Regions from separate parts of the Homo sapiens genome. Here region 2 is linked to region 1. A link means that fine-mapping ties the variant in region 1 to the expression of a gene that starts in the linked region. Tissue or cell type: whole blood. Region 1 holds a variant in brackets; the other region holds the start of a gene. All regions are shown on one strand. Distances are from middle to middle.

Region 1 (8,101 bases):
CCTCCACAGGACAGTGTTGTGTACTTCTAGGTCGTGGTTTGTAGCACAGATCTAAACTTAAGAGTATGTGCTTATATAAATACCCAGCATATTGACCCCCAGCCTGTCTAAACTCAGTCTCACAGCTCCCTTAGCTTAAAAGACAAGAAAGGGTTAGAACCCCGGAGCAGAGACCAGGCAGCCACTGCTTGCAGCTCATGGAACATTCACTGCCTCTTCAGCTTGCTCACCTGTAAAACTGGGTTGATAATACTCCCTCTGTTTGCACTGAATTCTCAGGAATGCACGAGCTGTTTATGCAAAAGGGCTTTTGGAGGAACTAATGAATACACTGAGTGAATATTACTTTAAAAATCATCCTAGGGAGGGTCTGCAGGCCTCAGTTTACCAATTATGGAGTTTAACAACAACCTGTAAAATATGATAAGATGATTTCCCAGATTCAGGCTGAACTAAATCCCTAGCATTTTAGGCCCAGCCTAGAGCTCCCTCGACTCTGCGACTCCCTCCTCTCGCCAGAAAAAATGCAAATTCCCACCTGCCCCCTGGGGGCAGTTCCATCTGAGCTGAGCACTGGAGAAATAAGAGGTGGCATTAATTATTCATGTGCCTACTTATTATGCTTCTTTCCCCAGGAAACTCCCAGCTGTCCTAAAGGGCTTTGAAGAGAAGGGGTGTGTAGGCGCAAACCAAAACATAAGCCACTTTGTTGTGTCCTGCTTGCACCAACAAAGGTTGTCAAATGGCTGGAAGATGAGGAGGTGGGGAGGAGTGGAGAGATGCGACAGGAAGGCAGTGGGATGATAAGGGGGGCACCAGCTCTGCCTACCTGCTGATCCAAATACTCTAGGTTTCTTTGCAACTGAAGATCTAAAAGTTCATCCTACCCGGAGCCCGAGGCCCAGAGGCCAAACAGCAACACAAACAAACAGGAACACACAAAAGAAAACAATAAAAAAAGAAGCAAAGCAGTTAAGAGTTAGCGACAAGGACAAGGAGAGGCTTCTCCCTCTGCCCTTGAGGAGTTCTCAGGAAGGGAGGGGTTGAGGATGTGGGCAGGCAAAGTAGTTCTCTACTGGACACTCCAGGAGAGGAGGGGCACACGCAGACCCCAGTGCCATCTCTCCTAGGTCTGCCTAGGCCTCCCTGGGAGAGGTGAGTGTCATCAGAGCAATTTAGGCAGCACTTGTTAGCAGCTGTTTCTGAGTTTTCTGGAAAAATCGGTTGTTTCTGGGTGCGTGTGTTTGCTGTGGGCAAAGCTTATATGCTGTGGACACTGGCAGAGTGAGAATCAGACAGAGAGGGGAAGGAGCAGCCGCCTAGCCTCCAGCCTGCCCAGCCCTCCTCCACTCTGGCCTCCTGGTACTGTTATGGAAATGAGTCAGCAACAGGCTTTCTGGAAAAGGATTCTGCCTGTTGGTCCCAGTGGTCCTCCCCAACCCTCCCAAGTGGAGCATCTTATCTAGGTCTCTAGGTGGTGGCAAAAGTTCTCAGGAGAACAAATTCCAGGGAGAGACACGAGTAGAAAGAGGCAGAGAAAAAGGAGGAGATGCAATTCGGAAAATTTTTTCTTCCTCAATCATATCGCTTGTATCTCTCCCCAAAAGTGGCATTCCAGGCAAAGGACAAACATGAAATAACTATGCTTCAGGGGAAAAAAGTTTAGAAGATCTTGCTTCTTGTTAGGAGCTCTGGCCTGATTTTTCCTGCCTAGGCCCCTTCTCCTGCATGCTGGAGAGGAGAGGGACCAGGATATTACATGCTCCCAGATCTCATCCCTCCTCCACGGGCTGTGTCACAGAGGAGAAGGGGTTATTGGCACCAAACTTGATACTGGGGCTAGAGTCCTGGCTGGGAGGGAGGAGGTATCCAGAGGCTGCTAAAAACCAGCCAGGCCAGGCACTAGGCACAGAGCGTCCCTGGAGTCCGCCCCAGTTTAGCTCCACCCTGAGTGGAGCACGGTGCGGGGAGGCCCTGAGACAGGTGGAGGGGAGAAAGGACGTACCATCTTATCGTGGACCGTGGGGGATGGTGGGTAGTTGTAGGGGAACAGTCCTGCAGGGACTGGCCGCCTGTCTCCCAGGTAATCATACTGGAAGAGAAAGGGATCGCAGAGGTGAGGGGTCTGGCTGGGACACGGAGTTCCCCAACAGCTGAAGCTCAAGGTTAGAGGTATTTGTGTTCAGTTCCCAGAGCAGATCCCAAACTGAAATGGACAGCAGCCCCCCTTGCAATGATCTGTCCAGGTCCTCAAGATTTGAAAAGACAGAACCCTCTCTGCCCTCTTATATGACGGCATGGTATCTGGCACAACTTGGGGGCATGTACAGAAAGCAATGTCCCCACTCAAGAGGCAAAGCCATCCCCAAGACAGCTCTCCTACAGACAGAACCACAGGCCAGGGGCTCCGCTGGGCAGCACTGCTGGTCCTGCAGACAAACGGCCCAGTGGCCCCGTGGCACAGATGCTCCCACATCTCTGCCTTTTCTCAGTAGATGGTCTTAGGCTTCTGGGGACCTCAGGGGATGAGGAAGGAAGGGCAGGCTGGTGGCTCACCTTGGGGGAGCTGATGGATCGCCTCATCACATAGGCAGCAGGGTCAGCATAGATGTCCTCACTGCGAGGTGGCAGCCGCTCAAAACGGGCACTGGGTGAGCGGACAGGGGAGTAAATGCGGGCACGGCTGTAGGAGCCCTGGCTGGGTGAGCGGGGCACAGAGTGGGAGCGGGGCTGCAGGGACAGGCGGCGCAGGGAGCTAGAGGCGGCATCCAGCTCATCATAATAGACTGGCTGCCGGGAGGGGCTTGGGATCCAGACGGTGGCATCCTGCCGCCCGTAGCTGGCGGGCTCCTTCCACTCTCGCAGCTGGTAGGCAGGGCCACCCCCATTGCGGAAGGCATGGCGCTTGTCCTCCAGGGCCCAGGGCGGGCTGATCCGATCATAGGCCGGCATGGAACAGATGCTCTCCGGCCGCACTCCTGGCGGGTAGTACTGATAATCATCGGGGTACTGGGAGGAGTAGGGGCCATAGTACTCAGGGACCCTGCGAGACACAGGATAGAACCTAGAGGGACTGAGAGAGAGGGGACATTGTAATGAAGGCAGACAACACGGGCACCCCTCCACCCACCCCAGCCCCACCTCCAGGTCCCCCAGCCTAGAGCAGGGTGCTTGAATAGGTACACAGGGGCTGAGGTTTATTCCAGAGATGAGGGAAAGACTCCTGTCCTCACAGCCCCCCTCCTCAAACAACTCCCCAAGGCTGGACACTGCACCATTCAGAGCTTCAATCTTTGCCTCTTTAAAATGACATATCCCTAGGAAGAAACGTGAAGCCTTATCAGCCATCTCCATCTCAGCATGAACCAGTTTATCAGATCTTTTCTGAGAGAGGCAAATAGAAGAAAGTCTACCAGGCACCTGAAGGAGGGCAATGTAGGAGGGATGAAAGAAAGGGCGGCTTCCTGATCTATTTTATATTATTTTAGAGATGAGGTCCATTCTGTCACCAGCCTGGAATACAGTGGGGCCATCAAGGCTCACTGCAGCCTTGAACTCCTGGGCTCAAGCAATCCTCCCACATCCACCTGTAGAGTAGTAGCTGGGACCACAGGTGTGAGC[C/T]ACCATGCCCAGCTTCCTGACTGTATGATCTTGTCAGGGACAGAACCAGTAGATTCTTGGGACTCATCCCAAGTGGTTCTCCCCAGAGCAGGCCTGATGCTCCCAGGCACCAGACCACCAGCAATGCGCAGCCGCTCAGGCCACTAGAGGGCAGGTTCCTCCCGGGCCCCATGGCCTTCCTGAAGCTGTGGCCTGCAGTCCCTGGAGCTGCCCAAATCCCCAGGGAAGGAGCCTGCAGCCCATTTGCCCTGAGGGACACCATTGGGCCCAATAAATGTCCCCAGATATTTCAAAGTCAGTCATTGGATAAAGGCGTAAATGGTCATAGATGGCCATGTTGGGACCAATGAGCTACTTTGTTTTGTTTTTTAACTTCATATAAATCATGGCTTTAAAACAATTAGAGTTGTTCAAAAATGGAATGAGTTGGTCTGGCAGTTAGTGAGTCTCAAGTGGGTGGAGCACTGGGGAGAGGATGTTGTAGGAGGGCCCATAGCTTGGATGGATGTATGACTATAACAACTTCAGGCCCCCTCCCAAAGCCTGCTGTGTTCTGGGCTCCCCAGCACGCCGTGGAGAGGCACTGGGGCACTCTGTCCCTTCTTCTGAAGGAAGCAGACAAAGAAACCAAGAATCAGGGACAGCAGCCAGACTCTAATGGTGGAGCCATGGGGCAGGCAGGATTTGGGCAAGCCAGGAAGCATGGGATTTGCTTGGTTTCCCAACTCAGCCTGCTTCCAGAAGGTTTCCAACAGGGGATGCCTCGTGGGCTATGACCCCACTCGCACGCTCTAGCCATAATACCATATCAGCCCCACCCCAGCCGCCGGCATGCCTCACCTCCGAAGGTCTTCAGGCGGGGGTACCCCCCGGCGCAGATTCACCCACTGCTGAAGCTGGTTCATGGAGCTCTTGCGCTGGGCAATTTTGTCAGGGTTGGTGCGTGGTGGGAAACTCCGCCGGTGTCCCCCAGTCTCTCCATCCTGAGACGGGAAAGCTGTGCTCCCTGGCCGGCTTGGGGAGTGGTACTGCCAGCCATTGGGCTGGGCAGGCTGTTCCCCACCCCCTGGCACTCTTGGGCCCTCGGGGTAAGGGCTGCCCGGCTCTGAGGCTGGCTCCGGTCCAGCTGGGAGGCCATTGGCTTTCACCGGAGGCTCTTTCTTGACTTCTGGCCTCTCAGGCCTTCTCTCTGCCTTCTCACAGCCTCGGCCATCACCCTCCCCTCGAGTCTTGGCCTCTGGCTCAGGCTTAGGGAGGCTGTTGTGGGGTGGCTGCTGGTGGTGCTTGCTGGGTGGGACGTTCTCCGAGTCTGGCTTCTCATGGCTGCAGGATGCCAAGGGAGATGCTGTCAGTGACTCTAGCCCAGCATGGAGTGGGGCAGGGGGTGCCAGACTGGGAAGAAGAGGAGTGGGGAAGGATGGGCAGGGAGGTGGCTGGAACCAGGATTCTATGAACTCCAGTTCTGCTTCCTAAGTCCCACCCCTTCACCTTCTCGCTCCAGCCTGGGAAATTATTATACAACCTAATCCGCCCCTGCCCACACCTGCTGTGTTAACTCTGCCCCCCACGTCTTCTCTGCAGGTCATTCTCCACCCCACTCCCCTCTGTCAGTCTGCTTTGAGCCCAGCCTTCAAGCTATGGCATGACTAACCTCACCTAGTCTTGGTCCTCTCTGCGATCTATCCCTGACCCAGCTCCCCAAACTGGGTTTGCACTCACATCAGTAACTGTCCTTGATACTCCAGTGACAAAGGCTTGTCACGGGGCAGCTGTCTTTCTTATAGAAAGTTATTTAACTGCCAAGAGTCTTGGGCTCCTCATCAGCAGAATGGGCATAATAATAGCTCCCCTCCTAGGACTGCTGTGAGATAAAACATGGCGGGCACCAGGAGCAGAAGTTTCTGCTTTCAAACTCACAAGCACATAAACACGCTAGTTCCCTTCTCCAAAACACATTTCTTCCAGGACTGACTTTCCATGAGAATACAGGCCCCACAAGGGTAGGAACATGGCAGACTTTCTTCCCCTGTGTTCCTAGCACCCACTACAGTGCCTTGCACATTTATATTTACAGTAAGTATTTGTGAAATGAATGAATGAACTCTTGGAATTATGCCCCTTGGTTGAAGCGAAGATGGAAATTTGTGACAATTTTCCCCCTACAGCTTCCCAAACTCCACATATTCAAGTGGGATTGTTGAAACATTGCTTGGTAAACATTTCTAAGATATGTGGACTTGGAGCCTACACTGTGAAACCCCCTTTTCCTGGATCCCCCTTAGCACCTAACTCAAGACTCCACATCCAGTTAAGGGAGAGACAGACGCTGAGACCGTGGGTGACGGCGGGCGATGGGAGCGGCCATATGTTAAGAGTTTACTGCATGTTGAGTGTTTTACACGCACTCTGTGTAGGCCTCACAACAACCCTATGAGGTAGAGTTGTATTTGCTGGTTTTTGAGCAGAGGAACCTCGGGTTCAGAGAGGGTGAGTCCCTTGCACTGAGATCACGCTACAGCCAAGTGGACAAGGTGTGATTCAAACCTGAGTTTATTTTCCTCCAAAGGCGGTGTGCTTAACACACACAGCCGAGAAAAACCAGCAAATGACCCTGACCTCTGGCTCCTGGCCAGACCCCAATGGAACCTGGCTTTTCTCTTGGCCTTCCCGAGCTCAGAGAGAAGAGGAGGAGCTGGCTAGGGGAAGAGAGACTTCAGGCTCTGAAATCACTCAGCCAGGCCTCCCGCCTGGATGCAAGGAGACGGCTCACACATTCTCCAGGGCTTCAAGTAGGCACACTGGGATTAGCAATGGCCCAGAGCTGGGTGTGTCTTCCATTCCCCTCTTTATTCTTCCTGCACCCCCACACTCAATTCCCTGGCACTCACCTGTGCCGCACAGCTTGGGGCACTGACTTCTGGGCTGGAGGGATCTGTACTCGAGCAGCCTCCCCCATGGCCTGGATCCAGGCCTCTTGCTCCTCGGGGCTCTCGGCACTGAAGAAGTAGGTGCGGACCCCGGCATGCTCAGCCTGTGGGGAGAGGCAGCGTGTGGAGCTGGCCTCGGCCTCATCCACCCAGCACACAGTCACCTGTTGGGAGAAGACACCAACGCCCACAGAATGGGCAGTCAGTTGGGCCATTCCCTGCACCTGGGGCTCTTCCCCATGCGGAGCTCAGGAGCAAGGTGAAGAGGGCAGCTTGCAGCTACCCCGAGGGTTCCAGCTGGTACCCACGTATCCACCTTGGCTGGCTCTCTGGGCACCATTAGGCAGCCCAATAACCAGGTCAGCCTACTTGCCCCACCTGGGGTAATTAAAGCAGGAGGGACAATGATCACACCCATTCTCCCGGCAAATTCCATGTTTGATTTCAAAGGCAATGACCCCATGTCTGGGAGAGAGGACCCCCTGAGCACATGCCAATCTTAGCCCCAGCTTCACTGCTGAGAAGCTAGCACTGTCTCTTCCACGTGGAGAGACAGCCAAGCCCCTCTCTGCAGGCATGCAAAGCAGGCACTGGCATACAGATGGGGCACACTACCTAGTTGGTGGCTGCGAGCAGGTACTGCGGGCGGGAACCCAGAAGAGAGCTCCTGTCCAGAGGAGGGGTCCTCACGCGGTCAGAAGGAGGAGAAGCAGAGAACAGGTCAACCAAACACCAAAGGGAGAGACAGAAGACGACGTGGCAGGAAACGGTGAGGAGCACAGGGAAGGGGGAATATTCAGATTGTCCTCTTCTACTCAGCATTCCCCCGGGAATGGCAGCACCCAACAATGCCCAGTTCTGCCTACCAAGGGGTGGGGAGTGGAGAGCTTGCACCAGGGAAATTCAGGCTGGTGGTGGAGAGTGAGTCAGGGAATCGCAGTGCTAAGCCTGGCTCTGCTCCTGACCAGCTCTGCAACTGCAGACAAGTTGTGGTTTTGCTCTGGTCTTCACTGATGCATCTATTTCACGGGAAAAGAGTCTGCCTGGTGAAATTCAAAGTTCTTAGGCCACAAGGAAAAGAGGCCACAGGACTAAATGCTTTCTGGGACCTCAGCACACTTCCCAGTGAGATCCTCAGTAGCCTAGCTTAGCCCACTCAACAGGGGACATCTAGCAGTGATTCAGAGTCTCGGATGTGAGCCTCACTCCAGCCTCTGACCCCTTGAGCCCTAAATCCTGGGTCTCTGGGGGTTGAGATAGCTTCAGGGCTCCCCTGAACAGCAACGTCAAGCCCACACCCTCTAAATGCTCAAAAGATTCCTCAGCTGCAGCTGGTCCCACCTCGCCTCCACCTGTCCCCAGCCCTCATTTTCTTTCTGACAGGAGCCATTACCCAGCAAGAGGCAGGGGTGGGCCTCCTTCCTCTGGTCCCCACCCTCCAGCAGAGGGCTTAGCATGTAGGTGTGGGAGAGGGCAGGGGAGGTGTTGACAAAAAGCCAGTGAAGACTAAGAAGCTGAGACTTGCGACGGATAGGGGATAGAGAGACCAGGGG
Region 2 (8,082 bases), 44 kb before region 1:
CCTCCCAAAGTGCTGAGATTACAGGCATGAGCCACCACACCCAGCCTCTCACGTCTTCAAACCTCCCTTGTATGCTGATGACACTGATGTCTCTCTTTCTAGTCCATGCCTCTCTTTGGGCTTTGAAACTCATATCTAGCTGCTTACTTGGCATATCTGCCTGGTTTTCTCTCAGCCATCTTGAACTGGGCTAATCTTCAATCCCAAACTGGTCTATTTATCTTCCCTCCTTCAACTTGTGCCTCCCTTGGTTGTCCTCAAATGAGTAAACATGTCACCACCGCCCACCCCACCACTTAACGCAGAAGCCCACCCCTCCCCCATGAAATCCACAGCTAAGTTTTCTTTTCTTCTTCCAAGATACATGTTGAAAGCTGTCCATTTCTCTCCATTCTTAACACCTAATTCCCGGCCACGATCATCTCTTTCCTGGACGTATGCAGCAGCCCCCATTTGGCCTCCTGCTTTATTCCTGCACCCTCCCAGTCCTTCTCCACACGGCGCTCAAAGGTCTTGCAAAACATACAACCTGATCATGTTAGCATACTGCCTAGACTCCTTCACGGCTGCCCACTGAGATTAGACTGCAGCAGAGCCTTCTCATCCACACCACAGCTCACAGGCCCTGCCTGGTGGGGCCCAGGCCTGCCTGCCCACCTCATCTCCTGCCACTGTCCCTATTGCCTGCCATGCTCCAACCACACTGTTCTCCATGGCTTCCATGTGAGCCCTCTTGACTCAGGGCCTTCGTACATGCAGTTTCCTGGTCTGCAACACCCTGCCTCTCACTTGTTACTTGACAATGCATCCTCATCATTCAGGTCTCAGCTGAAATGTCAGTTGCTCAGGGAAAGCTGGTCCACTCTCTTCCCTGACCTAAATCCCTCATTTCTCTCTCTCACAGGACTTGCTTATCATATTTGGTAAGAGTATATTACTTGCAGGCTAATTGGTTTAACAAAGTGTCAGCGTGCCACTGGGTTGAGGACCCAACCCACCTCTCTCTATATTTTTATTCGCCAGGTCCATGATTCTCAACTGGGCTGAGGGGATTGTGGGTGGGGAAGCGGGGTGCGGGATGGAAATTTGTTTCCCAGGGGACATCTGGCAATGTTTGAAGACATTTTTTATTGTCACAACTTGGAGTGGGGGTGCTACTGGCATGTAGTGGATAGAGGCCAGGGATGCTGCTGATATCCTATAATGTACAGGACAGGCCCCCACAACAAAGAATTATCCTGCCCCAAAATGTCAATAGTGGGGAGGTGAGAAACTGTGCCTGCCCTCGGTGATCTCATGGATGCTCATAGTCCTAAAAACCATGTATATGCAGATTATTCCCACATTTCTGTCTCCAGCCCAGGCCTCTACCTGGAACTCCAGACTCACATACCCAACCACCTACCTGACATCTCACCCGGATGTCTAACAGCACAAACAGACTCAACACATCTAAAGCCCAATTCCTGCTTCCCCCCACTCAACCCTTCCCATTGCACAGGCTAAAAAATATACAAGGCATTCTTGACTCCTCTTTCTCTCACACCCTATGTCCAAACCGTCAGCAAATCCTCAACGCTTTCCTCAAGGCAGATCCAGCATGGACCACGCCCCGCTAATCTCCTGCTAACACCTTGGTCTCCACCTTCACACACTCAGGACTGGCTTCCCTGGCTGGGCGCGGTGGCTCACGCCTGTAATCCCAGCACTTTGGGAGGCTCAGGCAGGTGGATCACTTGAGAAGTCAGGAGTTCGAGACCAACCTGGTAAACGTGGAGAAACCCCATCTCTACTAAAAATACAAAAATTAGCCAGGTGTGGTGGTGGGTGCCCGTAACCCCAGCTACTTAGGAGGCTGAGGCAGGAGAATCGCTTGAACCCAGGAGGTGGAGGTTGCAGTGAGCAGAGATCATGCCACTGTACTCCAACCTGAGCGACAGAGTGAGACTCTGTCTCAAAAAAAAAAAAAAAAAAAAAGAACTGGCTTCCCTGCTGCTGCCTTCATACCTCCACAGTCTATTCTCAACCCAGCACCCAGAATGATCTTTTAAACATAGAAATAGAACATATCACACCATAGCACAAAACCAAGGTCATTACCATGGTCTATAAGTCTCCAGTGTCCTGACCCCTCAGTGACATCCCTGACCTAAACTCCTATGATTCTCCCCTCACCTCACTTTGCTCCAGGTATACCCACCTCCTTGTTGTTCTTCAAACACACCAAGTATGCTAATGCCTCAGGGCCTTTGCACTGCCTGTCCCTGCTTCCTGAACATTTCCCCTCCAGAGAGCTGCGTGGCTTTGCTTCCTCACTTCCTATAGATCTCTGAAAAAAGATCTGAATAAAGGCTCACCTTCTCAGTGAGGCTTCCCTGACCACTCTATATAAAATAGCGACCCCTCCTACCTCGAACTCCATAGCCTCCTCTTGTTTTATTTTCATCTGGAGGACTTATCATCTTCTGATATACTATATACTTCTTTCTGTTAATTACCTGTCTCCCCTCTCTAGAATGTAAGCAGGGAGTCAGTTTCATTTAATGTTGGACACTCTATATCCAACACAGTGCTTGGCACACAGCAGAGACAAATCTGTTGAGTGAACAAAAGAATGTTGTCACCAATTCTCAGATGAAAAACCAAGGCTCAGAGGCTTTAAGTAACTCACCCAAATGAAGCCCACAGAGCCACGGTTCTTCCCATGGCCCCAGACTTGTTCCAAGACCTCCTCCCTACCTCTTCCCCCAAAAGAAGGGGAAGGATGTTTAGGAGTGAGGGTATGGTGGTTTGGTCAGGGGAGTGGAGTTTAGTTTTTTATAAGAAGCCCCCAGGGCCACAGGAGACCTTGATGGTGTGGGGAAAGATGTCTGAATGGGCAGAGGCCTCCTGAGTCCACCTTTGTGGCAACCCAGTTCTAAGAACCCGGGATGGGAAAGGGGTCAGTGTGAATGGGGAACCTGCCAGGCCCCCTGGGCACCAGCCTCTAGCTACCTGTGGGCCCTGAGCAACTCCCACCCGCTGGAGGGTAGGGAGCCACACCCCACCCTGCCTGCTGCCCCAGGGTGCCAGCACAGCATCTCCCAGCCCCTGGCTCCAGAGGTCACGCTTGTAGTGACAGAGAGCCCAGCTGGGAGAGAGAGCCAGCCGGCAGGGAGCCTGGCCTGGATAGCCCATTGCAGCCCCGCTCATCCCACTTACTCTGCCATTCGGTGATGGAGATCATGCCGCACTCAGCCTGGGGGGCTTTCCGGGTGGAAGCGGGCAAGTGGAGCGTGGCCCAGAGGACGCAGCTGGTACATGGTCACGGGAAGCTGACCCTTGGTTAAGTTGCGAAATGAGCCTGTGGCAAATCATTAACTCTCCCTCCAGCCCCCGCTCCACCCCCGCACACCACGCAGGTGCTTCTACTCGCCAGCTCCCTCCTCCCGTTTTCCGGTAGGGCAATGCCCCGCCCCTCCACCTGCCGCGCCTGCCCGGGGAAGGCACCGCCCACCTGACCCTTTCCTCGCACCTCGCGGTGTTCTGCGGCTCTCGTCTGCTCCGCGAAACTTAGATTGTATGTGGAAGCATTGGAATCTAGGGGGTGCTCAAGTTTCTTGCTTGGTTTGATAGTGTGGGAAGAGTTGGCATCTGCGCATCCCTTTGGGAATGTACTAAATTCATCTTGAAAGTCAAGCTTTTTGCTCTCTGCTATTGCACATGCTAGGCGCTGGGAGGCGATGAGCGACTGAGCACAAAGCCTGTTGTTGACCTAATGGCAGAGCCAGATCGGGTTAAATCAATGGCAAAAGCGCCATGGGGGAAGTTAGACGTGAAGGTCTTCGACCTCCTTTCCCCAAGCGGCGTCCAAGCTTTGGACTGACTGTGATGTTGAGCTATGGAAGACAAAGCCCTGAATTTGGGGTTGGGGCAGGACTGCACAATTTAGGAGGCCTGGTTCTAGTCTACCCACCAGCTGTGTAGACATGGATTCGTCCTTTGGGCCTGCAAAAAGAGAGGCAGTTAGTTCCTAACATCCTTTTTTCCCATCGCAGAGCAGTGGTTCTGACGTGGCATTGATGCCAGGAGAGCCAACATCCACTTTGCAATGTCTTCTGTGTCCAGAAATGAAGAAATGAATTTCAAAGACTACCTATATACATCATTTAAAAATGCAAATAGGCCTGGCATACAAAATGCATTATGTCTGTAATCCCAGCATTTTGGGAGGCCAAGGCAGGAGGATTGCTTGAGCCCAGGAGTTTGAGACCAGCCTGAGCAACATAGTGAGACCTTGTCTCTACAATAATAAAAATAAAAAATTAGCCGGATGTGGTGGTACCTGCCTGTAGTCCCAGCTACTGGGGAGGCTAAGGTAGGAGGATTGCTTGAGCCCAGAAGGTCGAGGCTGCGATGAGCTGTGATCAAGCCATGCACTCCAGCCTGGGTAGCAGAGCGAGATCCTGTCTCAAAAAAAAACAAACCAAACAACAACAACAAAACCAAGGAAAGCTAACATAATTTTTTAAAAAGAAACAAAAAGATAAATTATAATAAAACATGATGTCTTTCAATATATAAATGTTCAGGCAAGACTTACCAGAAGACATAAATGAAATAGGCAGATTGCTTGCACCCACACATAATATATGTTTGAATTTAAGAGAAATAGAAGATGAGCCATTCTATGCAAAAACAAAAATCACACACATGCAAGAAAATGAAAGAGTAGCAGGAAGTGAACATAGAATAAAAACTGTTAGATAAGGAATAACAGACCAGACGTACTTGCATATGATGAGAGGGAAAGCATCTTAATTGAAATAGGGATAACATAGCAAGGCAAATTAGAGAGCACAAGGTGGAGATAATATAGAAGTATGATGTGCATGCAAAGGAACTCAGTCTTAGGTATGTGTGTATTGTCAAAATAGCTCCCATGGAATGGGGTCGCCATAGAGTACCACAGACACATCAACCTCTGTCTTGAAACATATCAGCGTTGAGGTAAAATTCAGTCTCTGGGATCTTAAAAGGCCTTAGAGATCACATATTTCCAATGGGCAATGGGGGATAGAGGATGGATTGGGAAAAGAAAAGAAGATAAAAGTGGTTTAGAGCAATTGCATGTGGACACCCGGGACAGTGTTGTAAAGACAGGACACAACATTTCCACACATAATTATGACAACATAGCATCCTTGGGCTCCAAAAAAACTAAACATATAAAGGATGGCAATAATATGAAATAAACCCTAAAAACTTTTATTAAGGAAACTCAGTGAGATCTTCTGCATCTCAAGTGTCTCTGATTCCATGTTTGCTTCTCTCACATATCCTCTGTTAAATATTTTCAGTCAATTTCTTCGTTTATTCAGTATCACCTACTGATCAGAACTGTTTTCAATCAAATACATAGTAGCTGAAATCTTATAATCCTTTGTGTAGACAATGCATGGAGTAGATTATTCAATAATTTTAAGACAATGTCTTTATTCCTTTTAAGCTTCTGCTCCATAATAACCATCTCCTAACTTTCTGAGTGTTCATGAAATTTATTTTTAAAAGCTTACAAAACCTTTTGGTATTACTGTCAATTGAAGTATGACCAACTTTTACTGGTAGTGGGTTTAGTTCAGTTGTACATTCGAAAGTAGTACAGGATATGGGACAATTCTTTGTTTTGGAAATCTGTCCTGTGCATTGCAGTCTCGAAATGCCAGCAAGAGTTTTGCACCCTTATGATTGAGACAACCAAATGCCCCTAGGGGCCAGAATCATCCCTGTTGAAATCACTCGTAGGTTAAGAGCTTCATCCTGGCTTCGTGAAGCCTTGGGCATTTTATTTATCCTTTCTGTGCCTCAGCTTCTTGGATAATTATAGTACCTATGACTGACATAGAGGATGAGGATTCATGAGTAAATGCATGTGAAGTGCATAGAACCAGGTACCTGGCACATAGTAAGCACTTAATGAACCACTGTTATTCCTGTTACTGTATAGTTATAATAATTACTATTGTTATTAATGTTATTATTAGTATACTGTTAATATGCTTTATATGAAAGACTTCTACTGTCATCTCAAATTGTGGTGCTAAACCACTCCCGCAGGTGTATAAAATAGCAACTGGGGATGCCCCTTCCTGCCCCCACCCCCAGCCATGGAACCCACCTGTGAGCTCAGGAGAATTAAACGCTCATGATACTGGGCCCTCCGGGCCTGATTCTCTGGGTACTGGAGCTAAGCCCAGAGGCGCTGTCCACAACTCATCCTTCTGGAGAGGGACCTTCATAGGGACAACGCCGGGAAGGCTGGTGCTAGTCCTCGACCCATGGCAGTCTCATGACCCTGCCATGATGAGAAAAGTGTGGGGTAGTGCAGTTACTCCCTGGGCTGGAGGCATAGAAGTGGCAGGGGAGGGACACCTCAGGGATGGCACGGGCCCTGGTGATGTCTTCCAGCAAAGGCTGTAGAGCTAGTAAAGGAGGGGTCCTGGAAAACCTTCTCCCTCTTCCCACATCAGGCCCCTGCAGGTGGCCAGGGAGCCTTTGCAACATCACCACTTCCACTTCCTCACATTTGGAAGTGAATTTGAGTTTTCAAAGTGATTTTCATCCATTTTCTCATTTGTCTTTCTTGAAAGTTCCATAAGATGGTGGTTAATATACCCATTTTCCAGATGAGGGAACTGAGACTCAAGAATTTAATGACTTGTCCAAATCTTCATGCAGCTAGCAAGGAGCATGTTGCTAGGGGCAGGAGTTGAGGATGACATGCCACCTTCTCTCATTGGTCTCAGTAACGAGGTGAGGCTCGGGATGAGGAGGGGGACGTGGCGTGGCCCCAGTTCCCTGGCAGCAGCAGGGTCTGAGGCTTGGCTGCCTGCCTGACCCTGTCGTGCCTGTCTTCAAGAATAAATAAGTGATCATGCAGTTACACAGCTCTGCTCCTTAAAGGACATTCTGCTATTGCATTTTCATTTACATTTCTCAGCTACTACCCCCTTTTTACAAATCCCAACCTGGCTTGATCTGGTAGGGGATGGAGCAGGCACCAGCTGGCATCATCTCTTGAGAGGAGGAGGCAGCCCTTGTCGGTGGATGCAGTGATGCCCGGTGGTACTCTGTGGTCTCACATTCCACCTCCTCCCCAAGCCCTTGCCACTGGCTCTGGCTCAGATGGAGCCTGAAGATAAAGGCTCAGCCCCCCAGAAAGTGACGAGTTCTCCAATATGCATCCCCCTACCCCAGCCTCTGATGCAGGCCCTCCCCCAGAGCCTACATCTGGTCACAACTCTCCCGGGTTCACAAAGGACATCATCCTGGGGATGTGACAAAATCCAAAATAGAGTCGAATCTTAAAAATGACCTCCCCCGTACTAGCCCTTAGAAATGGGAACAGGTGTCCAGAATTCAGCTTCAGCCATGAAAGCCAAGCCGATGCAAGATCAGGAATTAGAGGAAGCTTGCTTTCTCATCTCTCCTTCTCGCTTTTTCTTGAGCCATCCCTCCCTCGGACAACATGCAGAAGCCCCGCTGAGCCTGCCAGTCTCCCGGGCGCACCTCTTCTCTTCCACTACCCACCCCACAAAATTTACCAGGCTTCTTGACTCTTGGTCCCCACAGTAAGATTCCAAATTGAGAAGCACTGGTAAAGCCCTTCACACAGAGTGTCAATACCTGATAACCACAAAACACCTGCCAAGAGAAATAAACCAAAGGGATGGAGGCAGAATGAGAACTGGGGTGGTCTCATACCTCCCACCAAATTATACAACTTCTTGTAAAGCAGCAATATAGCGCATTGTGTAGTAATCAAGAAAGGCTGGGAATTCATTCTCTTCTCCTGCTGTCCTGTCCTTTGTATGAGTCAAACCAAGGGAAGGTGCCAGGGCCTGAAGCATCTGATACTGCCATTATACAGAACCTTGGGGCAAACCCTGATCTGGGGTCACCTGAACTGAAATGATGATGCTGGTGTTGGTAGCATACCCTCGCTTCCCCAGCTCCTGGGGATGGAGGCCAAAAAGTGCAGGCTGAGGCACAGGGGAGGAAGGAGCACATGTTTTACACCCAGCCTACCTCCCAGCCCCCATT

The links. PIP is the estimated chance that this variant, and not a neighbour inherited with it, causes the effect.
Region 2: it holds the start of GOLT1A, and the variant in region 1 is fine-mapped to the expression of GOLT1A in whole blood (TOPMed, PIP above 0.99).

What each region holds. Positions count from the first base shown.
Region 1 is chr1:204,254,797-204,262,897 of GRCh38, forward strand. PLEKHA6 (pleckstrin homology domain containing A6) reads right to left here. Exons shown (of 23, transcript NM_014935.5): 7 at 6,510-6,652; 8 at 4,462-4,944; 9 at 2,557-3,073. Among named protein-coding and RNA genes, the nearest start is that of GOLT1A, 45 kb to the left of the region's middle. The variant C/T (reference allele first, on the strand shown) is at 3,622.
Region 2 is chr1:204,210,681-204,218,762 of GRCh38, forward strand. GOLT1A (golgi transport 1A) reads right to left here and starts at 3,308. Exons shown (of 5, transcript NM_198447.2): 1 at 3,202-3,308. The coding sequence starts at 3,226. RefSeq lists an enhancer at 3,179-3,835.